7 linked regions of the Homo sapiens genome follow. The protein of the gene in region 1 interacts with the protein of each later gene in a pairwise test. Each region holds a gene or a part of one and is shown in the gene's direction. Other genes may lie near its edges. The genes, in order: JPH3, MYNN, CKMT1A, DES, EED, SPRED1 and ZC2HC1C.

What was found.
Region 2: the proteins of JPH3 (region 1) and MYNN interact in binary tests that used the Homo sapiens proteins (3 or more experiments, as listed by UniProt).
Region 3: the proteins of JPH3 (region 1) and CKMT1A interact in binary tests that used the Homo sapiens proteins (3 or more experiments, as listed by UniProt).
Region 4: the proteins of JPH3 (region 1) and DES interact in binary tests that used the Homo sapiens proteins (3 or more experiments, as listed by UniProt).
Region 5: the proteins of JPH3 (region 1) and EED interact in binary tests that used the Homo sapiens proteins (3 or more experiments, as listed by UniProt).
Region 6: the proteins of JPH3 (region 1) and SPRED1 interact in binary tests that used the Homo sapiens proteins (3 or more experiments, as listed by UniProt).
Region 7: the proteins of JPH3 (region 1) and ZC2HC1C interact in binary tests that used the Homo sapiens proteins (3 or more experiments, as listed by UniProt).

What each region holds. Positions count from the first base shown.
Region 1 is NC_000016.10:87,639,854-87,644,367, forward strand, and holds part of JPH3 (junctophilin-3), read left to right. Parts: intron 1-4,404; coding exon 4,405-4,514. UniProt on the Homo sapiens protein: Junctophilins contribute to the formation of junctional membrane complexes (JMCs) which link the plasma membrane with the endoplasmic or sarcoplasmic reticulum in excitable cells.
Region 2 is NC_000003.12:169,782,756-169,787,179, forward strand, and holds part of MYNN (myoneurin), read left to right. Parts: intron 1-721; coding exon 722-805; intron 806-1,866; coding exon 1,867-1,953; intron 1,954-3,660; coding exon 3,661-3,923; 3' UTR 3,924-4,424.
Region 3 is NC_000015.10:43,696,456-43,700,333, forward strand, and holds the end of CKMT1A (creatine kinase U-type, mitochondrial isoform 1 precursor), read left to right. Parts: intron 1-1,558; coding exon 1,559-1,693; intron 1,694-2,185; coding exon 2,186-2,311; intron 2,312-2,517; coding exon 2,518-2,634; 3' UTR 2,635-2,767; downstream 2,768-3,878. UniProt on the Homo sapiens protein: Reversibly catalyzes the transfer of phosphate between ATP and various phosphogens (e.g. creatine phosphate).
Region 4 is NC_000002.12:219,420,825-219,424,610, forward strand, and holds part of DES (desmin), read left to right. Parts: intron 1-3; coding exon 4-129; intron 130-515; coding exon 516-736; intron 737-2,952; coding exon 2,953-2,996; intron 2,997-3,786. UniProt on the Homo sapiens protein: Muscle-specific type III intermediate filament essential for proper muscular structure and function.
Region 5 is NC_000011.10:86,257,764-86,262,277, forward strand, and holds part of EED (polycomb protein EED), read left to right. Parts: intron 1-4,514. UniProt on the Homo sapiens protein: Polycomb group (PcG) protein. Component of the PRC2/EED-EZH2 complex, which methylates 'Lys-9' and 'Lys-27' of histone H3, leading to transcriptional repression of the affected target gene.
Region 6 is NC_000015.10:38,255,323-38,259,836, forward strand, and holds part of SPRED1 (sprouty-related, EVH1 domain-containing protein 1), read left to right. Parts: intron 1-4,514. UniProt on the Homo sapiens protein: Tyrosine kinase substrate that inhibits growth-factor-mediated activation of MAP kinase. Negatively regulates hematopoiesis of bone marrow.
Region 7 is NC_000014.9:75,071,627-75,076,140, forward strand, and holds part of ZC2HC1C (zinc finger C2HC domain-containing protein 1C), read left to right. Parts: coding exon 1-285; intron 286-4,514.

The sequences.
Region 1 (4,514 bases):
AAGGCTGAGGAATATTCCACTGCATGGGGGGACCACGTCATTTTATCCCCGATGCCTTCACTTTTCAGCTCTTGTTCCCATCTGTATCTGTAAGCTGGAGCATCCCTTGATGGAGGAGGGATCTCAGGGAGTGGGTGAGCCTCTCCTCTTTCCAGGGTCATCCTCCACTTTGCGGGGGCAGCCCACCTTCCTGGAGTTCCAGCTGAGGGGGGGCCCAATTTAACAAGCACTTTGGGAGGTTGAGGTGGGCGGATCATGAGGTCCAGAGATTGAGACCATCCTGGCCAACATGGTGAAACCCTGTCTCTACTAAAAACAGAAAAAAATTAGCTGGGTGTGGTGGTGCATGCCTGTAGTCCCAGCTACTCAGGAGGCTGAGGCAGGAGAATCGATTGAACCTGGGAGGCAAAGGTTACAGTGAGCTGAGATCGCGCTACTGCACTCTAGCCTGGCGACAGAGCAAGACTCCATCTCAAAAAAAAAAGGGTTGTCCGGTTACCTGTGCATGCCAGGTAATCGACAAATGCTTTTTATTTTTATTTATGTATTTGTTTAGAGACAGAGTCTTGCTCTGTCGCCCAGGCTGGAGTGCAGTGGCATGATCTGTGCTCACTGTAACCTCCACCTCCCAGGTTCAAGTGATCCTCCTGCCTCAGCCTCTTGAGTACCTGGGATTACAGGCACCCATCACCATGCCTAGCTAGTTTTTTTGTATTTTTAGTAGAGACAGGATTTCACTATGTTGGCCAGCGTGGTCTCTAACTCCTGACTTCAGGTGATCTGCTCGCCTCGGCCTCCCAAAGTGCTGGGATTACAAGCATGAGCCACCCCACCCAGCCAACAAACGCTTTTTAAATATAAGTATGTCCCATGCAGCGTGTCCCCTAAAGAACGATGTGTTGTTCATCTGAAACTCAGATGTTACCAGGCGTCCTGTGTTTGATGTGACAACCCTGTCCACAGCCCTGGCACGGAAGGGGCAGTCGCTGAGGGTGCAGTCTTGGGGTGAGGGTCCCTGTGATGGCAGCCTGTGTCCAGCTTGGACTGGCCATGGGAAGGCCACTGTGTGGGCGGGTCTGGCCTTGGTAAAGGGCCACCCCCTGAGACCCACCGAGCCTAGTTCCAGTTTCCTCCTCACAACCCCAGCCTGGAAGGGCGTTCGGGTGTGGAGCAAGCCACAGGGTTTCCCCCCAGTGTGGTTCGCATTGGGGTGCCGGGTGGTTCCGAGTCAGCTGCCCCCTCTGCCTCCTCCCCGTGCCCATCACAACTGCCCCCAGTGCTGGGACCTCTGGGCAAGAGGCTGAGGCTGACACTCTGGAAAGGTGTGCAGTGGTGTTGTGGGGTCCCTGGGGTCCGGTCCACATACATCCCTGCTTGCCCGGCTCTTGGCATCCTGTAGGAGAAGGTGCCACAGCCTAGTGGGTGGGAGGGCAGGAGCCCCATCACTGGAGTCGGAGGTTGCTTTTGATGTTGATGGCAGTGAGGTTGCTTCTGATGTTGATGGCAGTGAGGTTGTTTCCGACGTTGATGGCAGTGGACTTGCCTCCAGGTTAGCTGCCTCCCCAAGCAGCTTTGGGGGTACAGAATGACCGACCAGTGTGGGATCCCAAACATCCTATCCCCTTGCCTGAAAGTGGGACGAGGCTGAAGCTGACCTCTCGCTGAGACCACCTCATTCGGCCCCGTCCTCTGCTGCCACGTCCTTCTTCCTGGTACCCCCCTTCTCCAGCCCCAAATAAGTCACGTTCACAGGATCCCCAGCTCAGGCTCTGCTCCTGGAGAAGCTGCCCTCAGAGGCTGCGTTGCCGATTCCTTTTTCAACGGAGAGGCTGCAGCGTGTGGCAGGTGCCACCATCTCTTGGAGTGAGGCAGCCTCAGGGGCTCTGTCCGGGGCTGCAGCCTGATTGGTGATCTTTGCACGCCCCTTCTCTGCCCTGGCTGGGCCATATGCCACATGGGGCGTGAGGGGCCTGCAACACAAGTCCCTCTGGGGGCTCGTGATGTGGTTGAGCTGGAAGATACATTCTGGAACATCTAAGACCCCAGCCACTGTCCTGAGTCTGGATGCCGCGGGTGCCGGGCATGGGGGCTCTGGGCCCGGGCCCTGGGGTGCTTGGAGGTGCTGTGGAGGAGGGGTGGGGCTGGCTTGGAGCCCATGGGATTCGATTGGAGGGTGGGAGTGTGAGAGAGGAGAGAGCGTGAACAGAGCCTTGGACAGAAAAGCCTGGAAGGATCAGGACCCTTTGGGGGGTGGCGGGTGAAGGTGGCGGGGTGTGGGGATACCCTGGGGACGGACAGGTCACTTGAGGCTACAGGACTTTGAATTCCACACTTAGTTTGGATCCCACCCTCTGGTGTGGGGCGTGTGAGTGGAGGGGGCCTGGCTAGGGAAAGGGGGGGGGCAGTGGGGAGTGGAGGGCTGCTTCGCTCCGAGAGATGGCGGCACCTGCCACCCGCTGCAGCCTCTCCGTTTAAAAAGTGACTGGCAGAACAGGAGCAGCTGCTGCCAGCTCCTGTCCATTTTGTCCTCTGAAAAGAGAGGTCGGGGTGGCCAGGTCCTCATTTTTCAGGAGACAGAAGAGAGCTGAATTTTTATGTCAAATCTCTTGGTTTTGAGTTGTTAGCAGGTAATTCCAATGTTTTATGAAAACAGCGGTGGGACGAATAAAACCTACGTATCAGTAAGTCTCGGCCTCCAGGCCTCTGGTCTGCAGCCTGTGCCACCGTGAGTTGGAAGAGTGGTGGACGGACTCTGTTCTCCCCGCAAAAGCCCTTTCCAGGGTGGCACATCCACGCCGTTAGTGCCCGGCTGCAGGGAGAAGCTCAAATGACAAATGAGGCTTGAGGTTTGCCGCGTTGGGCGTCGTGCTGAGGCCCAGCCGTCCTCACGGTGACCTTTGGCATGAGGAGTCCTGGTTCCACTCTACAGACGAGGACACTGAGGGCCAGCGGGGCCCAGAAACTTCCCTGAGTCACAGCTCACAGAGCAAGACATGGGCCCAGGTCTGCTGACCGGGTTTCCTTTTTATTTTATTGTGGTAAGAGAAATACAGAATGTACCACGTTAGCTACTTTTAAGTATACAATTCAGTGGTATTAATTACCTTCACGGTGTTAGGTAGCTGTCATCACTGTTTACCTCCAAGGCTTTCCCATCATCCTACTGCAAAACTCTGTCCCTATTCAACACTGACCCCACAACCCTCCCCAGCCCCTGCACCCACCGCGCTTTCTGCATCTCTGAGCGTGACTACTCTAAGGACCCCGTGTACATGGAATCATCCGATATGTGGCCTTTTGTGCCCAGCTCAGTTCACTCTGTGTAATGTCTTCAGCGTTCATCCACATTGCAGCCTGTGTGAGAATGTTCTACCTTTTCAAGGCTGAATGATGTTCCATCGTATGGACGGACCGCATGGCGTCTGTCCATTTACCAGGTGATGGACTTGTGGGTTGCCTTTCCCTTTCCAGCCATGGAAACAGTGCTGCTGAGAACCCAGGTGCACAGGCAGCTGCTGCAGTCCCCACCCTCCCTTCTTCTGGGGATATCAGGTCTGCTGATTTTATGTCTGAAGGTCATGGGCCACTGTCCCTTCCCTATGCCCTTGAATCTCTTCCATGGTGTGTCCACTGTGTGGTCTTCCTGGATACCTCCAGCAATGGGGAGCTCACTGTCTCCCAGAGCAGCCCATTCAGGGCTTAGTGTGTAGCCCACACCTGTGTCCCTGTAGCTGCCACTCATTAGCCTCCTAACCCAGGACGCGTTTCCTTGTGCCCTTGGCAGGGGCTCCGTATTCACTCTGGGTTCTGTGGTCCTCACTCTGCACCACAGACTCTGATGCCTCCCTTCTCCCTCCCCGATTTCCAAGAGAGAACAAGATCTAGCCATGAGAAGCAGGATGGAGGTGTCTTCAAAAACAGCCACTGGTGATAGAAGTTGTAGGAAGGTACCATGGTCTGTCTGCCTCCACGCAAACCTCACCAGGTTTCATCAAGATAGCACACCAGGAGTGGTGTGGCTCATGACTGTAATCACAGCACTTCTGGAGGCTGAGGCAGGATCACTTGAGCCCATGAGTTAGAAACCAGCCTGGCCAACATAATGAGACTGCCATCTCTACAAATAATTTACAAAGTAGTGGAGCATGGTGGTGCACGCCTGTAGTCCCAGCTGCGCAGGAGGCTGAGGCAGGAGGATCGCCTGAGCCCAGGGGTTCCTGGCTGTCGTGAGCTGTGATGGTCTCACTGCACTCCAGCCTGGGCAACACAGCGAGAACCTGTCTCAAAAAACACAAAACAACAGGAAGCTCAGACAGGACTGTGGCTGCTTCAACCCTGTCCGTGGCCAGGCTGTGCCCCCTCCTCTGTCGCTGGGCACTCACCCCTCTCTCATTTTCTCCCCAGGGACCTACCAGGGCCAGTGGGTCGGTGGCATGCGCCAGGGCTACGGCGTCCGGCAGAGCGTCCCGTATGGCATGGCCGCGGTCATCCGCTCACCCCTGAGGACGTCCATC
Region 2 (4,424 bases), on another chromosome or scaffold:
ATTTCTATAAGCTATGTTTATGATTTTTGCACATATTTGTTAAATATAAAAGCTGACTTATTTTCTAGAATAATACAAGGTGGGTGAAATAAATTATATAACTTACACATTAAAATCAGTGAGATAATTTTGATATTATATAAACTTGCATTGAGATGCATTTTGTGACTTTATAAAAACCTTTTCAGCTTCCTAAAGGGTCATCTCCTATAGTTAGGGTTGGGGAGTGGGTTTGGGTTGAACATGGATTTTTAAACTTCTTAGGACCTTTCCTACACAGATATTCTGGGATTTTCAAATAAGGTAATTCAGATGCAAAATAGCAGTTTGGAAACAAATTGCTTTTTTAGGGTACATTTTTTAAAAGACTTCCCTACATACTTTTATTCTCCTTTATTAATATAGTAGATAGCAAGAATAGAAATGTGGGTTTATGAATTGACATGTTCTTAATCATATAAAAATCAAATTCCTTGCCCAAATCATCTCTATTAGAAGGGACATTTTGAGGAATAAAGTTTTAATATATGAAAACTTATGAACAGTATACAATAATTACTAATATTCATTTACTTGGATCACTGAAAATACCTCTAAAGTACAATATAGAGAGATTTTAATTTAAATAATATTCCAGAAAAGCTTACTTTAGATTATTTGTAATTGATAAATATTATATTGGTATAGTACACCACTTCGCTATCTTTTATTTTCCATCTAGGTGAAAAACCATACATATGTGGTATTTGTGGGAAAAGTTTTATTTCCTCAGGAGAGCTCAACAAACACTTTCGGTCCCATACAGGTCTGTGTTTAGGGAGAACGTATTATTTTTTGTTCTCTCTTAATTTCTTTTTATGTAAACCTTGACTTTTAAGCCATTATGGACTATATGGTATTTAGTCATACTGTACCTATAGCAATATCTTAATGTATAAATATCAACTTATTTGCTTATTTTGTTTTTTTTTTAGTTGTTTGGAGTATGAATTAAATTTGTTAAAGAATTGTGTTGGTTTTCCAAGAAATATGCCAGATAATCAATAGTTTTTAAATGATTTGGATTAAATTGCACAGATATACCAAGAAATGAAAAGGAATAGGTAATACCAAGATAACATCAGATTTTCTTACTAAACAGTGTTTAGTATGCAATTTTTAGGAACAAATTTTAATTTTGACATGCTTATTGTAAAAAGTAGTTTGTAAATTGTATAAAGAAAATATTGAATGTAAAAAATTTTAAAACAAAGGAAAATGCCACTTTGAAAGAGTACTGTTCTGACATTCTCTTTTTAAAAATTCCTTCTCATAATTCCTACCTAGAATAATGTGAGTACTTAATAGAGATTTAGTAAGTTTTTGGTGACTTTATATTCTGACGCGCTTTAGTTTACACCATAAAGCACTGAACAGTTATTTCCAAAGAAGTGTAATATTGTAGCATGCTGTCAGTATTTTTAAGGATTTTCTAATTTGCCAGGTACCTGAGAGCAGAAACCATGATTATTACACTTATTTTCTCCCAGCTGTATCTCTTAGCCAGTGTCTGGCATATAACTGACACTCACTAAATGTTTCATAGAAATACAAGAGTAGGCTTTTGTTTGTTTTAGTTTGCAGATACATTTCTGTTTATGAAAATGCTCAAGTTTTCTTGAGATACAGATTTTTTGTATAAAGGAGTGTCTAGGTTGTATAGAATCTTTCATTTCACTATATTATAACCAGGTGATTAAAGTGACAATTTGAAACCAAATTTAAACACTATAATAATTTTTGCCTTGTGTTCATAAACATTGATATTTTTGTCTTAGCTAGCAGCTTTTAAAATATTGAAATTTAAACTTCTAATTTGTTTTTCAGGAGAAAGACCATTTATCTGCGAATTATGTGGAAATTCTTACACAGATATTAAAAATTTAAAGAAGCACAAAACAAAAGTCCATTCTGGTAAATGCTTGTGTTTTGTTTGCTTGTTTGTTTGTTTTAATTTGGTGCTCATATTAGTGCTATTCCTTAAAATGCTGAGATGAGATTTACATTTAAGCAGTTTAAATTAGATGTCTATTTCAAAAACTAGGTATATACATGTGAGGAAAGTAGCTTTTTTGCAGAAACATTCACTCTGGATTTTTCATATTGAATCTCTTATTTAAAAAAAAAAAAAAAAAACTTGAAACATTTCCTCCTTTGAAAACCTGACTTAATAACAGTCCCAAGCATGAAGGAACATATAAGCAAGCTATGTGTCACTGTTTCCCATACTGGAGTCTGGATAACTCAGGGTTTACTATGGTTATTATGAAAAAAAAGGGGGGGGGGGTGGTGTTATCATGAACACTAGTCCAGAAATGTTTAAGAGGAAATAGGGAAACAGGTAGCCCTACATTGTTATAATATATAAAAATGGAAAGCCAAACAACAAGTTTTGAGTCTATTGGTTAAAGTGAATTCTTGAAAAAGTTTCCCTGTGCTTACCATTTTATTCCGTCATTATTCGACATGACACTAGGCCCTTCTGGTGTGTAAATACTTAAACATCGTAAGTATTAAGTTAGAAACATCTAAAAACTGCAGTAAGTCATTAATTTAACCACTTGTTAAATTTCTGTAAAGTGTACTTTCAGGGAATATGAAGTTAAACAAGGCATAGTTCTGGTACTCAAAGCACTTACAACCTGGTGTGCGAGACCAGAAACCTAAATAAATAATTAAATAAACTAAATAAATAGGGAAAATGTAGGGCATAATCGACACAAAAGTGCTAAAGAAGATACTATGTTTTTCTGAGGTAAGTACTAAAAAAAACTTAATTTTAACTTGAAGGATGGAGAAGAGTTCAAAGATGGAGATGGGAAGAGAGGATTCATTCCGGGCAGAGAACACTGTAGAGAGTCAGTGGGACAAGAAGGAAACCTTAGCTAGTTGAAGTGAAGAGTAGTTTGGGAAGAATACAGATAATTACAATTTTACGAAAGCAGTTTTGTCTGCGTGACAAGGACGGTGAAACCAAAATCATGTCAACACTTTAGAGTAACGGAAGCATGTTAAAGCCATTGGAAAATTTGAAGGCAAAAGTACATCTTTAGTCAGTGTGCTGATTGCTCCCTTGAGTAGAGCAGAATTTCTCACCTCTGAAAATATATGAAAGTGCCATACATACTGTTCTGAACTCACAGAATAATATGAACAACTTATTAAAAACATTCAGTGAATGAAAAGAGTATTTCTTATCACTGTTTAATATTTTGAGGGAGTTAAAGAAGTATAACGACATTTACTCTCAAAGAATTTACAGTCTGGTTGAGGATTCAAGGCATACCTGAGTAGAATGTTAAATGGCAATAAGAGAGATAGATGCCACAAGGCAGTATATGAAAATTGACAAATGTGTGATTAAGCCGATATAACAGCTCACCCTGTTTCATTCTTAATCAAGTCCATTTTTTTAAATGGAGTTGGTGCTTGAACTTAACCTTGAGGCCCAGATTGAATTTACATAGATAGTGAGGAGGGCATATGTACAAAAGAGAAACCGCTTGAGTAAAGGTATGGTGGTTGGAATGTAATTTCTGGGAATGGTAAGTACATTAGTCTACCTCAGGGGTTTAGTTTTGTTTTAAAGATAATGTAGATTTTTTTTTCCTTCCATTCTAGGTGCAGATAAAACTCTAGACTCCAGTGCAGAGGATCATACTTTGAGTGAACAGGATTCCATACAAAAAAGTCCTTTATCAGAAACTATGGATGTGAAGCCTTCTGATATGACTTTACCATTAGCTCTTCCACTTGGGACTGAGGACCATCACATGCTTCTGCCTGTCACGGATACTCAGTCTCCTACATCAGATACATTGTTGAGGTCAACTGTGAATGGGTATTCAGAACCACAGTTGATTTTTTTACAACAATTATACTGACTTTGTAAGGAATATGGAATTGCTAAGATATCATTGGTAGCAAACATCTCTGGTAAGGTGCATATATTCATATTAAATTCCCATTCATTTGAGTTGTGACCATTATTTTTCATTCACTGAAGTAAAAGCACCTGATGCTGCATCACAACTGCAATGTTTGTTTTTATTTTTGGCTTTATGTCTATACTCCACAGAGAGCTTTTTAAGTAATGAATTATGTAGCACTATTTTGGGTGGATGAGTTTTATTTTCTTTTAAAGCTGCCTTAATTCCATTTTTATTTTGCATTTTAGAATTGCCCTTCATTTACTAAATCAGCCAGTTAATGTGATTCAGTTGTGACCTGTGGGATTTTAAAATTTTCCTGCCCTCATAATTTAAGCAAAATCCACGATAGTATCAGCCCAAGAGTGTGTTGCTATTTGTAAGCCCCATGGATCAATACATAAACTATGCATAAAAATAAAATTTCATATTTTCGCTCGTAAAAATTTAGGCGCT
Region 3 (3,878 bases), on another chromosome or scaffold:
AAGACATGTCTGATGGTAAAAAGGACTACCTAGGACTCACTCTAGGACTAAAGGTATAAACCAGCTGGGACCATACTGGGAAAACCAGGACATGTGGTCACACTAAGATTAGGAAAAGAGTGTCAGGAACCTTAGAAAGTGAAGAAGGCAGGTAATGCAAAGAAGGAATAACTGAGATGGCACGTCAGTGCCTGGGATGTGTGCAGTGGGATGGTGAGGTGTGCAGATAAGGAAAACATTCGAGCTTAGATTGATGTTGGCGGGGAGAGGTTGCTGTGTTCATGACTCTAATATAACCACCCAGTTCTGAGACAAGGTAGGCCTTGACTCTGGATTCTATCATTCTTGTTAAAGTATCGGGTCTAGGCTTTAAGTTGAGAGTTCAGAGGGAGACTGGGGAAGGTGGAGGATAGAATGGTTCGAGTTCTAGAATATGTGGCTCTAGATGAGAGGTTGAACTGAATCATCAATCCTACATGGATTGGGTCTCCGTATTCAAGTCTACATTAGAAATCCCCATAAACTCAATTCAATTCTTACTGTATGTTCTCAAACATACAGTTCTATTTTAGGTTTGCAAAGAAAAAGAGCTCCTCTTTTAGATTCTGAGAAGTTTCTACTATTTTTGGCAAGTAATAGATAACATATTCTGACTATGAGTGGGTAGGGAAGTACCTTTAAATTATATGCCTCAGTTTCCTCATCTGTAAAATTGGGATAATGAGATTTTCTACATTTTAGGTTGTTGTGGGGATTAAGTGAAATACAGGTAAAGTACTTGGTCCACAGTAAGTGCTTAATAAGTGTTAAAGTGTTAGCTGCAATATTATTCTGGATGGAAGAGTTTCCCCCCATGTTCAGCACATAAGATATCCCTGGTGGCATGGTTCCTTCTGAACTACAAACAGGATCCCTTTACTCATGTTGGATAGTGGTCTTTGTGATCATCACTCTGCTAGATCCCTTGTCTCTTGAACTCTAATAGTCATCTTCATGACTACATGGTTAATGGAAGCAAAATGCCTTCCCCCTGTCCCCTATTCCTATGAATCTGGCTTTCCTGCTCTGTTTTCATCTTTCTCTGCATTCACACAGGTGCTCCGTTCACAGCTAATAGAACGTTATCTCACCTCTTCCTGGCAAAGCTTACACCTTCATCTTCTGTCTGAAAGGACCCTTCCAAGCTCTAGGCTCATTAGCAAAGCAAAGATAATCGATGCATGCAGACCTCATTGAATAATCAGTCCTCTCTCAGTTCAGTTTACCACCTCTGTTCATTTCCCTAGATCATCCTTAATACACCACGCCTTCGAGTTTTCTTCTTCCACATAAGATATTTTTTCACAATCTCATTATTATGCACATCATAATTTTGCATCATGCATGCATGAAAACAATAACAAACCTTTTTCATTTAAAAAAAGACCAATGTCATTCATTCACAGCCAAGTTTCTATTCTAGACAAATTTCTAGTGTTCTTGTGGGTCTAGCTAAGGGAGGGTCCAGGGTTAATGAAATATCCCTGATTTTTCATTAATAAAAACTTTGTGGACTCAGGTGGAGAGACTTATCCAAGAACGTGGCTGGGAGTTCATGTGGAATGAGCGTTTGGGATACATCTTGACCTGTCCATCTAACCTGGGCACTGGACTTCGGGCAGGAGTGCACATCAAACTGCCCCTGCTAAGCAAAGTAAAGGAGTTGTGGGGTTACAGAGGGGTGTGAGTAAGGAAGGGTGGGTTGTGGATGGGGAGGGAGTGGACCCTTTGGAGAGGAGCCAAACATGTTGTGGCTAAAGGGTCAGAGGACAGGCCAGGCACAGTGGCTCATGCCTCTAATCCCAACACTTGGGAGGCCAAGGCAGGCAGATCATTTGAGCCCAGGAGTTCAAGACCAGCCTGGGCAACCTGGTGAAACCCCATCTCTACTACAAATACAAAAGTTAGCTGGGTGTAGTGGAGGCTGAGGTGAGAGGATCACTTAAGCCTGGGAAGTCGAGGCTTCAGTGAGCTGTGATCACTCCAGCCTGGGTGACAGAGAGAGACCCTGTCTAAAAAAAAAAAAAAAGAAAAAAGGAAAAAAAAAAGTTCAGGAGACAGAGCTCTGAGCAGGTTCAGGGCTCTTTCAGGTAGGACTAGTCTCTGCCTCTATTGACCCTGCTCCCAATCCCTATCTCCTCTCTAGGATAGCCGCTTCCCAAAGATCCTGGAGAACCTAAGACTCCAAAAGCGTGGTACTGGAGGAGTGGACACTGCTGCCACAGGCGGTGTCTTTGATATTTCTAATTTGGACCGACTAGGCAAATCAGAGGTGAGATCCTAAGGGATTAGGATGAGGAGAGGTATAGGTCTGTGGGGGCTGAAATATGGCAGTGAGTGAGCCTCCGGGATGTAACATAATCTGAAATGAAATTCAGGTTGAGTGGGGAGGCAATTGGAAATGAGCAGGCAAGTCAGTCAGTGATAAAGAAAAACTCAGACTGTAGGAAGCAGAGATCAAAGATTAGTGTCCTTCAGGTGGAGCTGGTGCAACTGGTCATCGATGGAGTAAACTATTTGATTGATTGTGAACGGCGTCTGGAGAGAGGCCAGGATATCCGCATCCCCACACCTGTCATCCACACCAAGCATTAACTCCCCATCGCCAGCTGATGACTCAAGATTCCAAGGAGTTCTGCTCATTCTAATGATGGCCCATTCTACTTGCTCTGGACCTGCCCTCGCATCCCCTGCCTCCATCCTAGTAAAGACTCCTTGCTATGCTGCAGCTGTCTGTGTTACTTCTAATGGTGGGGTGAGGAGGGAGCAGCCTTCAGGAAATGAAAAGAGGCAGTGGGATTATTTATGATGGAAAGAGACTCCAGATATGGCAACCCAGGAACACTGATTCTCAGGTGGGTGGAAAGCATTAACATTTTACCCATATTCCTCATCAGCTTCTGAAAATAATCAGGATGCACTTCTGTTTGCACTTTATTCATTATGACTTAAGATTTCTCTCCCCACAATCTCCTTCTACTGTAGAGACAGGCTCATAGCAGGTGGCCAAGGAAGCTGATAGTCAATACCAGGGACCAGGAAGGTCGTGACCAGTCCTGGAGGCCCCAGGCTGTACTTCGACCTATAATAGACAGGGAATGGGAGTAATATCACAACTCAGCTCTCCAGGAGCATTGATACTTGGAAATTAGCGCTCTGCCTGTAGACTCCTTCACTCCAGGGATCTCCCTGGGTGCACTCTAAGAGCCAGACAGCACCAAATTAGGGGTTTGATTCTGGGTCAGGAGATGGAGGATCAAGCTGTGCAGCTGGGAACTCACCTTGCTGTTCTGGGCTCTCCTTTCCCTCATGTTGGGCCCATGCAACTGCTCGTCGCTGCTCAGGACTCAGAAAGGCCATTTGCTCAGGAGTGACAGCCACAGCCTGAGCACTGGCGAGACTAGATAGTTGGATGGGACTAAACACCACCTGAGGGCAGGGGTAGGAATCAGTGCATGCATGTAGTCCCCATTGGGCCCTGGCTCTCCTGTGGTCACCCCAGTCCATTAATACTTACAGCAAATTTAGGAGGAGGGATGACAGAAATGGCAAGAGGAGTAACGCCCTGGATCTGTCCCCGCAGCAGTGCTGAAAGAGCCAGGTCTGGGATCCCAGCTGTTGAAGCAAGTGGCATCCAAACATTGTCTTAGACTGACCTTCCCTCTCTTCAAACCTATAGACCTTCTCTAACTACTCCCAAAGTGCCCTATCATAGACCTTCCCCAATATGTCTCTAGCCCCTTATTTAAACACCCTCTCAGGCCCACACCTGAAGAATTGCAGGGCAGTCTTCCATCCAGTCCACCCATGGTATAGAAACCAAACCAACTTGCACCAGC
Region 4 (3,786 bases), on another chromosome or scaffold:
TAGGTGTCAGACCTGACCCAGGCAGCCAACAAGAACAACGACGCCCTGCGCCAGGCCAAGCAGGAGATGATGGAATACCGACACCAGATCCAGTCCTACACCTGCGAGATTGACGCCCTGAAGGGCACTGTGAGTCCCTGCCCACCTGGCCAGGCCCTGCCCCTTCCTGTCTGCAGTTCACACCCTCACTTTGTGACCTTGGGCCCATCATAGATCCTCTCTGGGCCTTCATCTACTTAAATCTACAATAGGGGTAAAACCAGACAAGTGGATTCCAGTTGGATGCTAAGGAATCAGGGGTTCCTGGGCATCTACCTATGTGGGGACTGTGAGGCTGAATGCAATGTTCCTTTGTATCTATTTTATTCTGAGTGTTCACATATAGACTTAATTTGAGTTCAGGGTTCAACATGGCCTGGACCTGACCATCTGGAGTTGCCTGCCAGCCCCAAAGCTTTCTTTGGGCTGCTAGTGTCCTCTTCCCTTCCTTGACCTGGGTTCCCCCTCTCCTGCAGAACGATTCCCTGATGAGGCAGATGCGGGAATTGGAGGACCGATTTGCCAGTGAGGCCAGTGGCTACCAGGACAACATTGCGCGCCTGGAGGAGGAAATCCGGCACCTCAAGGATGAGATGGCCCGCCATCTGCGCGAGTACCAGGACCTGCTCAACGTGAAGATGGCCCTGGATGTGGAGATTGCCACCTACCGGAAGCTGCTGGAGGGAGAGGAGAGCCGGTGAGGGGCCAGGCAGGAGCCCGAGTGGGAGGTGCGGGGTGCTGGGTGGTCCATTTCTGTCCCCAGGAGGCTCGAGATTACTGATTACCTCAACAAGACCTGGAAACAATTTTTTTTTTTTTTGAGATGGAGTTTCGCTCTTGTCGCCCAGTCTGGAGTGCAATGGCACCATCTTGGCTCACTGCAACCTCCGCCTCCTGGGTTCAAGCAATTCTCCTGCCTCAGCTTCCCGAGCAGCTGGGATTACAGGCGCCTACCACCACGCCTGGCTAATTTTTGTATTTTTAGTAGAGACGGGGTTTCACTATGTTGGGCAGCTGGTCTCGAACTCCTGACCTCAGGTGATCTGCCTACCTCAGCCTCCCAAAGTACTGGGATTACAGGCGTGAGCCACCGCACCCGGCGTGGAAACAATTTTATACAAGAGGCCACTGCTCTATTAATTGCAGAGAATTAACCAAGGCCACCTGGGTAAAAAGCAATTTAATTAACAGCATTTATAAAAAGAGAAATATAAGTATTCCCTTATCCACCTTCAGAATTAAGAACCAGCAGCAAAAAAAACCATATTCAGCAACCAATAATAAAATATTACTGCCAGTCAAGGGAGAGATGAAAGCAGAATGGGGAGTGATGAGGAGGGAAACGGAGGGAGCAGATAGAGGCAAATAGAGAGAGGGAGGGAGAGAAGCCTTGCACAGGGATAGGCTAAGAGAAGGTAAAGAGATGCATACAGAAGGCATGAGTTTGCACACACATGCACACATGTCAGCATATGCACATGTTCGGAGGAAAAGACACAGACGTCATGCTCAGAGCAACCCACCTCTAGACACAGAAAACAACATACAACTGGAAAGGGACACCAGGGAACCTTGTGGGATAACAGAAATGTTCTATATCTTTTTTTTTTTTTTTTTTTGAGACAGAGTCTTGCTCTGTCACCCAGGCTGGAGTGCAGTGGTGTGATCTCAGCTCACTGCAACCTCTGCCTCCCAGGCTCAAGCGGTTCTCCTGTCTCAGCCTCCCTAGTAGCTGGGATTACAGGCGTGTGCCAACACACTCAGCTGATTTTTTGTATTTTTAGTAGAGATGAGGTTTCACCATGTTGGTCAGGCTGGACTCTAACTCCTGACCTCAAGTAATTCGCCTGCCTCAGCCTCCCAAAGTGCTGGGATTATAGGCATGAGCCACTGTGCCTGGCCTAGAAATGTTCTATATCTTGATTTGGACTGGTAGTTACACAGACGTGGACATTGATCAAAACTCATTGAATTGTACATTAAAGATCTGTGCATTTCACTGTATGTAAATTTAACCTCAATTTAAAACAGATCAGTTACTCCAAAAACTGGTACCCCTTGATACTCATAAAAATAATATCTGAAATTTTTAAAAAGGAGCAGACATGTTTAGATACAGGTACAAACATAAAGAGAAACTTCAGATTTTGTAAAATCACGTCTACATATGATGGCCTTTGAAGGTAGCTAAAGGCATGTTGCATTTTCCCAGCATTAGGCCTAAATAGTAAGCTCTCAGAACTGGCCTGGCTGGAGGGTGGGCATGAGCAATGGATATCACCCACAGCTGCTACTAGTACCAACTTCAGTGCCAGGAGCAAGAAGGAAATCCTGGTGCTCTGGAGGGCGCGGTGGGGTTGCACATCCTAGTGTCGTGCCAGCAGTTCACAGTTGAAATAATGATCCTTCCAGAAGAGACTATTCCTGGGACAGCTCTAGCTGGCCTTCGACCCCATTCCTTGAGCAGTATGGGTGGTGGGAGTGCTGGGGTCCGTGGGACTGGGACAGCTGAGGATGGTGTTTAGAAAGGACCAGGGTGAGCCTTGATGGGCGGTCTCAGGGAAAGATGGGAGGGTTCTTTTTTTTTTTTTTTTGAGACAGGGTCTTGTTCTGTCCCCCAGGCTGGAGTGCAGTGGTGCAATCTCCGCTCACTGCAAGCTCCACCTCCTGGGTTCGCACCATTCTCCTGCCTCACCCTCCTGAGTATCTGGAACTACAGGTGCCCGCCACCATGCCCGGCTAATTTTTTGTATTTTTAGTAGAGACGGGGTTTCACTGTGTTAGCCAGGATGGTCTCGATCTCCTGACCTGGTGATCCGCCCGCCTCGGCCTTTCAAAGTGCTGGGATTACAGCTGGGCCCGGCCGATGGGAGGGTTCTTAACTCTTAGGAGGTTTTGTCTCTTCCCTTTTAGGATCAATCTCCCCATCCAGACCTACTCTGCCCTCAACTTCCGAGGTGAGTGTCTGCTGGCAGGCGGAGGCTGGAGTTGCAGGGGCCAGGAGTCCAGCATGGGCACTGCCCAAGGCCAGCCAGGAGGGAGGATGGGACCCTGGGGCTAGGGACAGACCTGGAGTCTGGGGAAGAAAAAGGGGACCACTGCGGGTAGGTGGGGGAGTTTAGGTAGAGGTGGATGAGGCAACTTATGACAGAGAGAGCTTTTTATGTGATTATATTGTATTGTATTTACCATGTCCCCTGCACCTTCTTGGAGTATTGGGCCTCAGGAAGCAGCCTCTGTTCTGAATCCCAAACTCTGAAAGCAGGAGTGTCCTTGGGGACCTGGCTTCAGGAGCATCTCATACCACCTGCCCTCTAAGACACCCACAGCCCATTGTCTGTTTGGCACATTGCCAAGCCCCACCTTGGCTGCTTGTCGAACACCTCCAGTTTGCTGGAGCAAGATGTTGGATGCACGTTTGGAAAAAAATGCCAAATCTTAGCAAAGCCAAACAATGAAAAGAACGAGCTCTTAGGGCACTCTGCCATTTTGACATTAGTAATACGCAGATCGGGTGGCTTTCCAACCCCAGAGAGCAGAGAAACACACGATAATGATGCATTAGGAAAGCAAGTCGGAGTCCTTGGCAGCTTCTCCTTTCCTAGATCAAACCTTTTCTATCTTCGATGTACATTTCCATCAGGAAAAAAAACACGCTGCGCTCCAGCGAGTCACAACATTCATCACAGGCTGGTTGCTAGCTAAGGAAATTCGTAAGCACCAAACTCATAATACCAAGGACCTCCA
Region 5 (4,514 bases), on another chromosome or scaffold:
AAAGGCCATCACAGCCTTACACAGAAAATACTGGCAGTAAGTGCCTCTCCATCCTGAGACTGGCATCACCCTTGTTACTGATTTTGTGGCCAATCTTATTTCAAAACAATTATGTAATCCTTCTCATTTTTTTCTTTAAAAACCTCTGTCTTTCCTTTACGTCTCGGAGAACACACATAGTTTACTTTGGCATGTACATTCTCATTGCAGTGCATTATTTCCATATAAACATCTTTTATTTTAGAGAGCCTCTCTGTTACTTAGGTTGACAGGTCCTGTTTTATTTTAAGTCTAGTATCTGTTAGTTATTTTTCCTGATCTTCTTACTCCTCCCACCCTCTACCCTCCAGTAGGCCCCAGTGTATGGACAGATAGTGTTCTAAGGAAATAAAGCCAAATTAAAAAAAAGGTTATAACAGTACATTTTAGTAGGAAAATCCCAGGCTATGTTAGCATATCCAAATCATTTTGTCCAATCATGTAATAATAAATACTACATATGAAAATTCATATTGCTTTTTTATTTTTTAAAAAAGCTTTTGTTTTATAAAGGATTTCCTATAGAATTTCTTAAAAATGCTACGTTTTTCAGGATAAGTTATTTGAAATATTCCCATAAAGGGAAAGCATTGCATTTTGGAAATCACTACCTCTAGGAAGAGTTGATTACTTTTTCTTGTCTCTTGATAACACTAATTGGGGCTCAGATATTTCTGAACAACTGTATAGACCGTAATGCCTCACTTGTTCTAAATATTACAACTTTTTTTTTCTCTTTTCTTTGTTTTTTGGTTTTTTTTTTTTTTTTTGAGACAAAGTTTCGCTCTTGTTGCGGAGGCTGGAGCGCAATGGTGCAATCTCGGCTGACTGCAACCTCTGCCTCCCGGGTTTAAGAGATTCTCCTGCCTCAGCCTCTCGAGTAGCTGGGATTACAGGCATGTACCACCATGCCCGGCTAATTTTTGTATTTTTAGTAGAGATACGGTTTCTCCACATGGGTCAGGCTGGTCTTGAACTCCTGACCTCAGTTGATCCGCCTGTCTCAGCCTCCTAAAGTGCTGAGATTACAGGTGTGAGCCACTGCGTCCTGCCTCTATTTATTTATTTATTTATTTATTTTTGAGACAGAGTCTTGCTTTGGCGCCCAGGCTGGAGTGCAATGGCTCTATCTCGGCTCACTGCAACCTCTGCCTCCTGGGTTCAGGTGATTCTCCTGCCTGACCCTCCCGAGTAGCTGGGATTACAGGCGCCCTCCACCATGCCTGGCTAATTTTTTTTATTTTTAGTAGAGATGAGGTTTCTCCATGTTGGCCAGGCTGGTCTCAAACTCCTGACCTCAGGTGGTCCACCCGCATCGGCCTCCCAAAGTGCTGGGATTATAGGCGTGAGCCACTGCGCACAGCCCAACATCACAACTTTTAACCCTGGTCTTCCTCTATTGTGTCAGTAAGAGCATTTTTAAAAATCAGAAGTTTGAGCATGAATAAGAATTTTGCTCCAAGTGATACTATCAAGAAAGTAAAAAAGCCTACTCAAAAGGAGAAAAAATATTTATAAATCATTCTGATAAAGGACTTTGATTTTTATTTTTTGTTTTTGGAGACAGGGTCTTGCCCAGTCACCCAGGTTGAGTGCAGTGGTGTGATCATGGCTCACTGTAGCCTCAACCTACCAAGTAGTTAGGACTACAGGCACGTGCCGCCATACCTGGCTAATTTTGTAAAAAATGTTTTTGTAGAGATGAGGTCTCCCTGTGTTACCTAGACTGGTCCTCAAACTCCTGGCCTCAAGCAGTCCTCCTACCTTGGCCTCCTAAACTGCTGGGATTACAGGCATGAGCCATGATTCCCAGCTAATAAGGGACGTGTATCAAGAATTTTTATAGCTCAACAATAAAAAGACAGCCCAATTTAAAAATGGCCAAAAGTTCTGAATGACATTTCTTCACAGAGCATACACAGATGGCCACTGAGCACATGAAAAGATGTTTAACATATTAATCATTAAGGAAATACAAATCAAAACCATAATGAAATACCACTTCACACCTACTTAGGGTGGCTGTAATAAAAACGTTAGATACTAACAAGTATTGACTGGCACAAGAAGAAATCAGAGCCCTCTCAGACACTGCTGGTGGGAATGTAAAATGTAACTACTTTGAAAAACAATCTGGCAGTTCCTCAAAATGTTACAGAGTCACTAATCCTAGATGTTTACATATGTATGTATATCCTAGGGTTGTGTGGGTGGGGGTGTACATATGTATCCCCAACAGAAATAACATGTCCATACAAAAGCTTGTACAAAATTGAAATCAAGGAATCATTTTTACAGCACTGTTAATTTTCACATGTATTACTACCTCTGGGGTGTTTATGTGATGCATTTATATTCACAGACAGAATGAACATTGTTATATTTCAAGCTTACATGACGTGTCTTTGCTTTACATTCTTTCTTTTTTTTAAATACTGTTTTAGAGACAGGATCTCACTCTGTCAACCAGGCTATAGTAGAGTGATGTGATCACAGCTCACTGTAGCTTGAGCTCCTGGCCTCAAGCAATGTTCCCACCTCATCCTTCTGAGTAGCTGGGACTACATGTGCACACCACCATGCCTGGCTAATTTTTAAAAATTTTTTGTAGAGATACGGTTTCATTATGTTGTCCAACCTGGTCTCAAACTCCTGGCCTCAAAAGATCCTCACACCTTGGCCTCCCAAAGTGCTGGGATTACAGGTGTGAGCTACTGCTGTACATTCTTTATTAATGTTTAATATAACATTGCTCAAATTATAGCTGCATAATTTTTGAAGAGGGACTGTCATTCTATAAAATTGTGCATGATATATGTAGTTATGTTTTCAGCTTACTGTAAAAATCATAAATCTCAGTCCCCTTTCAATTTTTTAATGTGAGTATGGTGAAGGGAAAAGCTAGTATCTTGTTCTGTGGGATAAAATTGCTTATGTCAAATCTGTATTTTATTTCAAAAGTATATTTCCATCAAATTAGGTTATTTAAAGAAAGTTATTTGAGATAAATATGCTTAAAATATTTTTCAGACCACATGAATATTTCTGAACTTACTGTCTTAGTCCACTTTAACCTGGCATTAGAAAGTAAGAACAAGAAATTGAACTTGAAGCCTTTTTTTTTTTTAATATATAATTGGAATTAATTCATTCATAAGAGTGGTACTCTCATGACCTAACGCTTCTCATTAGGTCTCATCTCCCAACACTGCTGCATTGGGATTAAGTTTCCCAACCTGCTTTTTCGGGGGTTCATTTAAGCTGTAGCATTCTGCCTCTAGCCCCCAAAATTCAAATCCTCAATCAGATATGGGTGAGACTCAAGGCAGGATTCCTGCTGAGGTAAATTCTCCATCTGTGGGTCTGGGAAATCAGGCATCTTATCTATTTTCAAAATACAGTGGTAGGATAAGCATAGGATAGACAGTCCCTTCCAAAAAGGAGAGATAGGCAAGAATAAGGGTAACTGGTCCCAAGTAAATCCAAAACTCAACAGAACAAACAAGATTAAATCCAAGGCACCAGAATAATCTTCCTTGGCTCCATGTTTTGCCTTCTGGGCATGCTGGGTGTGGAGTTTGGGCCCCAGAGGCCTTGGGCAGCCCCATCTTTATGGGTTTGCCACGTGCAGCCCACATAGCATCTTATGAGTTGGAGTCGGGTGCCTGCAGCTCTTGCAGGCTGGTGGTGTGCCCTGGTAGCTCAGCAGTTCTGGGATTTGGGGGATGGCTTTTTCCCCATGGCTCCACCAGGTGTTGCTGTAGTAGGAACTGCTGTGTGGCTCTGCCCTTCTGAAAAGTTTCTGCCTGGAGCCCCAGGCTCTTTGTGATGTCTTTTGAAATCTAGAGAGGAAGCCGTGCCTCCACAGTTCCTGCATTCTCTGCATCTGCAGACTTAACACCACATGGACACTGCCAAGATTTGCTGCTTGTACCTTCAGAAGCTATGGCCTGAGCCATACTTGAGCCCCTTCAAGCTATGGGGTGACCAAAGAGCACTGCCTTGGAATAGGGGGAGCAAAGTGCTGAAGTGGCCCTGGACAGTGAATGTAGAGGTCCCATGGGTGCTACTCTGGAAACCTTGCCCTCAAGGTCTTAGCTATGTCTTGAAGATCTCTGAAATGCCTTTGTGGTCATTATCCCATTGTCTTGGTGAATAGAACCTGCCTTCTCTTCCCTATTAATCTCCTTAGCAATTAGTCACTTAGCTACATCCTTAATATTCTCTCTCAAACATGCTTTTTTATTTTATATATTTTTTGAAGAGACAAGGACTTGCTATGTTGCCCAGGCTGGTCTTGAACTTCTGGGCTCAAATGATCCTTCCACCTCAGCCTTCGAAAGTGTTGGGATTACAGGTGTGAGCCACCACACCCAGCCTGCTTTTTTTTTCTTTACATGGCCAGGCTGAGAGTTTATAAATGTTTCTGTTTTGCTTTCCTTTTTAATTACAAATTTCACCTTTAGATCATTTCT
Region 6 (4,514 bases), on another chromosome or scaffold:
ATTATCTCACTCACCCAGACTTTTAAAATCGTTTTTTCACAAATTTATCCTGCTTTATTAATAAATTATTCCCTAGGAGCTTTGTAATACTTTTTAAGTTTGGGCAGGGCGATAATAATATTTAGCATAATATTTTGGTAAACTCTTCATGGGAACAAAATCTTGGGGGTTTTACTTTAAAAAACTCTATTATATTAGAAAATAATGTGTTCATCTGATAATCAGTTTTACTAGAGCCAGCATTGTTTGCTTGTGCATTAGATAAACCACAGAGTGAACTTATTTGGAATGTAGCTTTTAATATAGTAATTTATGTCTCATCTTTAATAGGTGAACCGTTTTGAAATGGAAATTTATTATTTATAGTCATTATGAAGAAAGATACGTATCATGGCAGAAGCCATTAAGGCCTTAGCACAGTTTAAAACTGCCCTGTAACATGGATTTTATTTGGGCCTTACATTTTTTTCCCTTTTCTCTTTTTTAAAGCCATTGCTCATAGGGATTTAATTACAGTAGGGACTATTTTTAACATTCTTTAGTTTCTTTTTCACCTGATTTCAACCTTCAAGAAAAGTGAAAATCACCAGTTTCCTGGGAAACCATTAACCCTTTCTAGATAGCCATTGTGGTAAAATCCAGTAGGGCCTCATTCTGAAATCCTCGAGTACATGCTTATTATTTGAAATTAAAGTTTTATGTAGAGAAATGGATAACTCCTAGGCTGACTGTGAGAATATATTTAATCAAGAATTAGTGGGGGATCTGTTATGTGTAGGGCTTTGCTTTAATGCCAAACCAAGTAAGGAAGAAATAAATTAGAATAAAGCATTTCTTAGATTGTTTCACATTTATGTTTAAAAATCTTACTTTTCAAAAATAGTAAACATACTCTAGAGCAAAAGAATTTGTGTTATAAATAGTAGAGGAAATAGCCACATACATGTTTGTTTTGTAGGTAATTTGCACAGAGACTGTTTAATACTCCAGTCAAATGTTTCCGATAGATATAACTGTACCATATTTTACATTATTGAATTAGCCTTCTAAATAGAGTTTTAAACATTTAAAGGCATATTATATAATACTTAAGAGTCTTTGTCCTTTGGTATTGAGTGTATATAGCACTGCATGTCCTTTTGTCAATTTGGCCAAAACATTTGGAGAAGTGAAGTAGCTGAAATAATAAGCATTTGGCTTATTAGGTTCACGTTAGCCAGAAACACTTCCTGTGTCAGTATTAGGCTTTCTAATAGCAAGTTGGGATTATATTAGATTTTGGAATTAGGTTAACTAGAATTAGACCATGTATGATAAACGTACTATGTTGTAATCTGAGTTTGAACTGTTTTTCCGTAAATAGAAAGCAAATTTTTATGGTTATATCATTTAGTGCCTCATAAAAAATATACCCAGTGGTGAGTTATTTTTGATAAGTGTAAATAAACATATGTTCACCCCATACATTTTACGTATGTATATGTATGTACACACACACACATATATATATATATAAAATTGGAAAACATTCTAGAAATAAATGGAAGCACTGGAAAGCTGTGTAATATTAAGCCATCTAATGTTTGTTTATATAGATGTGGTGTATACATAATATAAAAATTTGCTTATTATTCAGTTGGCCTGTGTAAAAATCAGCTAAATGACTGCATACTTGCTTCAACTTAATTTCCCTCTGCTTTCTCACTTAAAACTTTATGATCCTGAATTATATATTTTAAACACATTATGATACCATACCTAGAATTCCTCTCCTTACAAACTTTTGTAAATTTGTCATTTTTCCCCAAAAGACCTTCTCTCTTCCCCTCTTTCAACACTCTGTCCCTCTATGTTGCCTCTGTACTTCGTACATATGTATATTAGTTTTAAAATCATATAATATTGTGATTATTTACTTATTTCTATGACCGCTATTCTGTAATTCCCTACTTTTGTTTGTATGCCTAGCACAGTGCTTGATGGCAAATGCTCTACAAATGTGGTTGAATTAATGGAGCCTCATTACCTCATTTTTTTGTTTTCTCTGAATTTATGCATTTGAGATCATTAGCTGTATTAGAAAAAAAGGCCGAAAAAGAGTATGGGAAAAGTAAATTATTACCCGTTTAAGAAGGCTTACCTTTTTTTTTAAGAAAAGACAAAAATTGGCCTCATTTTTGACATGTTTTGTTTCTGCAAGTTTGAGAAATAACTTAGATCAGGCTTAAAAACTGTCCTAAAGTGCTGTTGGGATGTTTGGATGTGCTTGGCCTCTGAGTTATGTGGTGTATCTGAAGACCCGTGTTATATCCACAAGAAGGTAGACATTTGTGTGTCTGTCTTTTTTGGCATAGGAAGCTCAAAATTTAGGAATATGTATCTCCAGCTGTTTATCAGTTTTAAGTCTTTAAATTGCTCTCCCTTTCCCCCATGGTTCCACATTAGTGCCAAGGGTGAGGAACTGACTAGGGATAAAGAAGTGAAATTGATCAGGAAAGGGTAAACAGCAGCAGATTCCGTGATTTTATACTGCAGCTGTTGGTGACTGAGAACTGCCTAAGGGGAAAGTGTAACAATTTAGCCTTTTCTCTGGTGTTGTATAACTTGAACTTGACTAGTCTTACCCAGTTTGGGGAAATGATTGGTAAAGACAAGCCTGCTTTTCTTCTCCATCTTTCAGTAGGAACAGGAACGACATTAAAAATGCCAATTTAAAAAATGCTTCACCCCATGTAAGAGTAGTAGTTTATTTCAGATAATGTACAAAATGATCTCTAAAGTGAGTAATAATTTATTTGCAATTCTGCCATTAAATAACAGCTGCTAAAATTTTGGTCTACATGGAAACCTTTCTTATGATGTTGGTGATGAAACATATTCATTTATTAGATTTTTACTGTATGCCAAGCACTGTTATAAATGCTTTATGAAAGCATTATGTAGTTTATATATATACATGTGTTTCTTCTCAGTGGAATGGAATTGCACAGTGGGTACAATTGTAGCTTAATGTGAATATTTTCTTAAGTCGTTAAATATTCTAGAATATAATTTTTAGTGGCTACATTATGTTCAGTGTATGATATACATTAGTTGTAATCAGTCTCCTATTGTTGGATATTTTAGTTATTTTTAAACAATGTTGCATACCATCCTGAGTTCTGTCTCCATCCAGATCTCTTACTTTTCCCTTGAGATAGTCTAAGAATGGAGTTAAAAGAGAGGAAAATATTTAATTTTATTCTTTCTGTTAAATTGCCCTCTAGAAAAGAAGTATTTAGTATATGAGAGTGCTTAAACTTTGAAATGTCTGTACAGTTGTCTGAATTTTTCTTTGCCAATTTTGAAGGTAGAAAATGAAGTCTTATTTTTTAAATGCTTTATGGTAAAATAAAATTGATTTAAAAACTTATTAGGTTGTTTTGCGGTAACTAGAATGTTTTTAAATGCTATATTATAAATAGAATTTAAGTGCTCATGTAAAAGCCATTTGTACATCATTTATTTAACTCTTACCATCTTCTGTGCAGTATGGTATAGTCTAAAGAACACTGGACTTGAAATTGGGAGATGGATTTCTTTTGTAGCTATTTTTAATTTATTCTCTAATCCTGGGCTCTGTAGGCCTCAGTTTGCTGATTTATAAATTAAAGAATTTGGACTAAGCATCATATGTGCCCTTCCTTTGTTGATGGTGTATGATTTAGACTTTGTTAATTTTATTATATTGTTATTTTTGACATACTTAAACAAAAGACTTAAGAGTAGAAGTGGTAGGAAGATTAGGTAAAAGCATGCATTTTGAACAATTAAGATACAAAATTTGGAAACAATTGGTATATTAATAGTCTTTTAAGACTTACTTTGGGCTTAATAGCCATGTATCTTTGATGACACAAAATTTTGTACTACTCAATTTTGTTTTTTATGTATTTATTTATTTTAAAGAGGCAGGGTCTTGCAGTGTTGTCCAGGCTGGAGGGCAGTACAGTGGTATGATCATAGCTCACTGCAGCCTTGAACTCCTGGGTTCAAGTGATCTCCCACCTGTGCCTCTTAAGTAGCTAGGACGACAGGTGTGCCACCACACCTGGCTAATTTTAAAATTTTTTGTGGTGATCGGGTCCTGCCCAGGCTGGTCTCAAATTCCTTGGCTCAAGTGATCCTCTTGCCTTGGCCTCCCAAAGGGCTGGGATTACTGGCATGAGCCACCATGCACAGCCCTCATTTTAAAAAAGAGAAAAAAAGTATGGCCTCCATCTGTGGATGAATAAGTAAACAAAGGCTATTGGGCTTAAACACCAACTTGATTAGTTCTACAAGGAATATGCTAACAAGATACCAGTCTTTATGCTTTACTTACAGAAGTAAGTTTTTTACTAGGTCACTTATACAAATCAGTAATGTAACACTAGGGGATAACTGTATATTAGTTTAAGAAGTTAACTCAGGTAATGAATTTTGTTATTCTTTAATGTTTAGATTTATGATAAGTATTATGTCATAGCTGCATC
Region 7 (4,514 bases), on another chromosome or scaffold:
CCGCCTTCAGAAACACCAGTCGGTGCTTTGCAGGGATCCGCCAGAAATTCCAGCCTGTCCATGGCACCAGACTCCTCAGGTTCCAGCGGCTCCATTGAAGAGCCACAGCTGGGTGAGTGCAGCCACTGTGGGCGCAAATTCCTCTCGTTCAGGCTGGAGAGACACTCCAACATCTGCAGCAGGATGCGGGGTTCCAAGAGGAAAGTGTTTGACTCCTCCAGGGCCCGGGCTAAGGGCACAGAACTAGAGCAGTACTTGAACTGGAAGGGGCCAGCTTCAGCCAAGGTAACAAGAGCCTTATGGATGTGACTTGGTGTGGTGATCATTGTAGGGGTCTGTTTTGTCATCATCAGTTTTCTTTAGGGAAAATTCATGTGTCATGTAGGAAGAATTGACGTCTAGAATTAACATTTCTTGATTACTACTGTATGCCAGCATTGTGACGGGAGCTTTTCATGTGATCTCCACATTATCTCTCATTGTATCAGTTCAAAAATCAAGACTTGGACAGGCTAAGTAACTTGCTTGAGGTCACAAACAGCTTTAAGTGGCAGAGTCGGCATATAAATCTTGGTTGGAATGACTAAAAAATCTAGACATAGAATTTGTGTCCTTTGGATTATAAAAGTAATAAAAGTTTACTGTAGAAAATTTAAAAGACACAAAAAATCTAAAGAAAAAAATGCAGCCTTTTGTCACCTGGAGAGAACTCCTCACTCTTTGCAATGTATTCTGCCACTTCCCAAGACTAGGATCTGTGACCATTCCTTTAACTATTCACTCTTTTAAGGTTAGCTCAGTGTTAACATAGCTTCTTAGTAAATAGATGAAACACAATTAAGTTTGGAATTCTTTTTCTGCCCATTTAGAATGTAAACACCTTGAAGGTAAAAAGGACTTTCTTTCTGGTTATCTTACAAACCATGCCCTTGCCAATTATTTCTCACTTTAGAAAAACCAGGTTGGAAAAAGTAAGGGTTTCGTGACACTTACATGATAAATTTAGGTGAACTTCATAGGCACATTTGGACATATCTGGAGAAGATTGTCTCATAAATGAATGACATGTCAAGGTTGTGCCACTTGGTTTATAAAATGGTTATTTCTCAAGGTGTGGCATGCTGACAAACTTTATTTTAGTAGTTTTAGTGTTTAGTGTTGTATTAGAAAAATTGATTCGTCGTTTAGTGTTATATTAGGAAAATATAACAATATATTAAGCCCCTGATTTCCAGGGATCATGAATTTACAGAAAAATATTAATTAGTTGTAAGGATGAAGTGAAAGTGCAGATGATTGAAGTTTGGGAAAGCGTAGATCATATGATCTCAGAGGCCCCATCTAGTTCTAATATTCCAGAAGAATAAGAGAGTGTCATTCTGTTTTCATTTCTTCCCAACCCTCCCTCCGCTGTGCTGGCACCTCTTGTCCATTGGCACTTTACAGTTTCTGTGTATTTGCTGGAGCCTTTAAAAACTCACATTTATATGATGGTTGTTAGAAGAAATTGTTTACAATTAGAGTTCTTTCTTTTAGTAGTTTGGAGAAATCACAAGGAAGTCCCATCCATGTTCAGAGATCATCTCCCTGAAATCTAGTTTCCAAAGAAGAAATCAGCATTTTGCTCTTGCAGATAATAATATGATCACCACTTACTGTTTTTTCCTGTTTTCTTTCAGTTCAACCCAGTAATCCACTGGGAATTCACTCTATGTCCCACTGTAGCGATTTATTTTTGGCCAGAGCCTAAAAGAATCTTGTGTTTCTTAAATTCGTAAATACAGTTACGGTGAAGCAAAATAATTAGGTTCCTGAGATCAGATGCTCCAGCTTTATGGCAACTAGTTTGTGGGAATGTGTGACATTGAGGACACCAAGACAGAAGGGACCTAGACTAAGATGCACCTGCACCACCCTGGTAATGTCTCAAATCTTATTCCACAGTGCTGTGCCTTTGGAAGCTGAGTGGTTGTACCTTCCTGTCATTCCTCTAGAGTACTCAAGAACAGGTGATTTTCCTGGTATCCTTTAATCTTCACGTAACTCCCAGCAGACGTACACCCTGTCTCTCTCCTGGACTGTAAGCATTTTTGAGGACAGGGAACATATTTTGTGCTTTGTGCTTAATAAGTGTTAACTGAATAGAATTTCAGTACAATGAGGAATAAAATTATAGGAATTAGAGTATAAGAAGTAAATTACTAAAGGATCTCATATACTTGAGGAACTTTCCCCTGATCAAATTCTTTGAGAGGAACTTTCCCCTGATCAAATTCTTTTTTTGAGACCGAGTCTCGCCCTGTTGCCCAGGCTGGAGTGCAGTGACGCGATCTCGGCTCACTGCAGCGATCTTGGCTCACTGCAGCCTCCACCTACCGGGTTCAAGCAATTCTCTGCCTCAGTCTCCTGAGTAGCTGGGATTACAGGTGCCCGCCACCACACCCAGCTAATTTTTGTATGTTTAGTAGAGACGGGGTTTCACCATCTTGCCCAGGCTGGTCTTGAACTCCTGACCTTGTGATCCACACGCCTCAGCCTCCCAAAATGTTGGGATTACATGCATGAGCCACCGTGCCTGGTCTTCGAATTCTTTTAAAGGTTCCTGGATACCATCGCTAATACTCTCTTGCCTTCTTGTCTGTTTTGGCAAGAGACTTTCTGGAAGGATCCTTTCTTTTCCTTTGATAGTATCTCTTCCTATTATTCATCATTAACAATGCCAGATCACCAAGAGCTAGTTGTCTTTTTTCTCTTTAAAAAATTTAATAGTGTTTGCATGCATTTAAAAAACATGTAGTACTGAATGACCTATAATGGAACCCCTAATTCAGCCCCCGGAGGCAGCCTTCAGTTCTGTTAGATGGTTCTTCTGGTCTGCCTTTCCATATTTCCAAATAATATGCTTATTTTCTTGATTTATCAATTTTCTACATTACCTGTTTTTTTTTGTTTTGTTTTGTTTTTTTTGAGACGGAGTCTCTGTCGCCCAGGCTGGAGTGCAGTGGCTTGATCTTGGCTTACTGCAACCTTCACCTCCCGTGTTCAAGCAATTATTGTGCCTCAGCCTCCTGAGTAGCTGGGCTTACAGGCGAGTGCCACCACGCCCGGCTAATTTTTGTATTTTTAGTTAAGACAGGGTTTCACCAAGTTGGCCAAGTTGGTCCTGAACTCCTAACCTCAAGTCATCTGCCCACCTCGGCCTCCCAGAGTGCTGGGATTACAGGCGTGAGCCACGGTGCCTGTTCTACCTGGTAACTTCTTATGGAAGCTGGGAGTGAAGTTCTCTTTCATATTCCCTCTCTCCTACTGTTCTCTTTCTCTTATCCTTCCACTGTAGTCGAATCACAATTTTTGGTTAAAAGTAGTTAGCTTTCACATTGTAATGATCAAGTAAATTTTGTTCATTAATGAGTGAACAAATTCTGTCTCTGCCCACATGTACCTAAAATTAATAATGGACGTATGTTTTCATTTCCTTCATTTTCTACATACCTGTCTTTTTCTCCCCCGCAACGATCCATCTGATATCAGACATCTGTTAACGTTTTTGTAATGCTCAAACACCTCTCATAATCTATCAGTTTGATTTTTTAATTCTGAAAACCTCCCTTCAGCCACTCTGATCCCTTCTGCTCCAACCTGGACTGGGTATTCTCTAGGCCTGGTGCAAACTCATTCTCTTGGAACTTCTCTTTGCTTCTCTTCTTTGTTGGGTCCTCTGTTTCCAGCATCCTGTGTCTTCCTTTTTCTTGCATTACTCCTTCCTTTGCTGAAGCTTACTAAGAAGGGTGCATAGCAGGTATATTGTCTTGGAATGAATGACACTATCTATATGACAGGCTCCCATTTGATGATTTGGCTAGGTACAGAATTCTAGGAGGAAAATGATTATCTGTTAGAACTTTTAAAGTATTTCCCACTAGCTTTTAGCATCCAGTGTATTGTTGTGAAATCTAATGCCATTTTGATTCCTGTTCCATTACAAGAAACCTTTTTTTTTAAAAGGCTACGGGATTCTCTATTTATTTTGAAATTCTGAAACTTTACAATAATTGTGCTAGATACTTGGTAAGCCATTTCAATCTCAAAATGTGTGACCTTTAATTCTAGGAATGTTAATTGTATTATTTCCTTAATAATTTTCTCCTCACCAGGTGCTGTGGCTCACGCCTATAATCCCAGTACTTTGGGAGGCTGAGGCAGGTGGATCACCTGATCTCATGTGTTCAAGACCAGCCTGACCAATATGGTGAAACCCCATCTCTACTAAAAATACAAAAATTAGCCGGGCGTGGTGGCGCACGCCTGTAGTCTCAGCTACTTGGGAGGCTGAGATAGGAGAATCGCTTGAATCTAGGAGGCTGACGTTGCAGTCAACCAAGATTGCGCCACTGCACTCCAGCCTGGGTGACAAAGCAAGACTCCATCTCAAATAACAACAACAACAAAAACAAAACAAAACAAAACAACAATAATTTTCTCCTCGTGCTTTCTCTGTTCCTTCTGCAACTCTT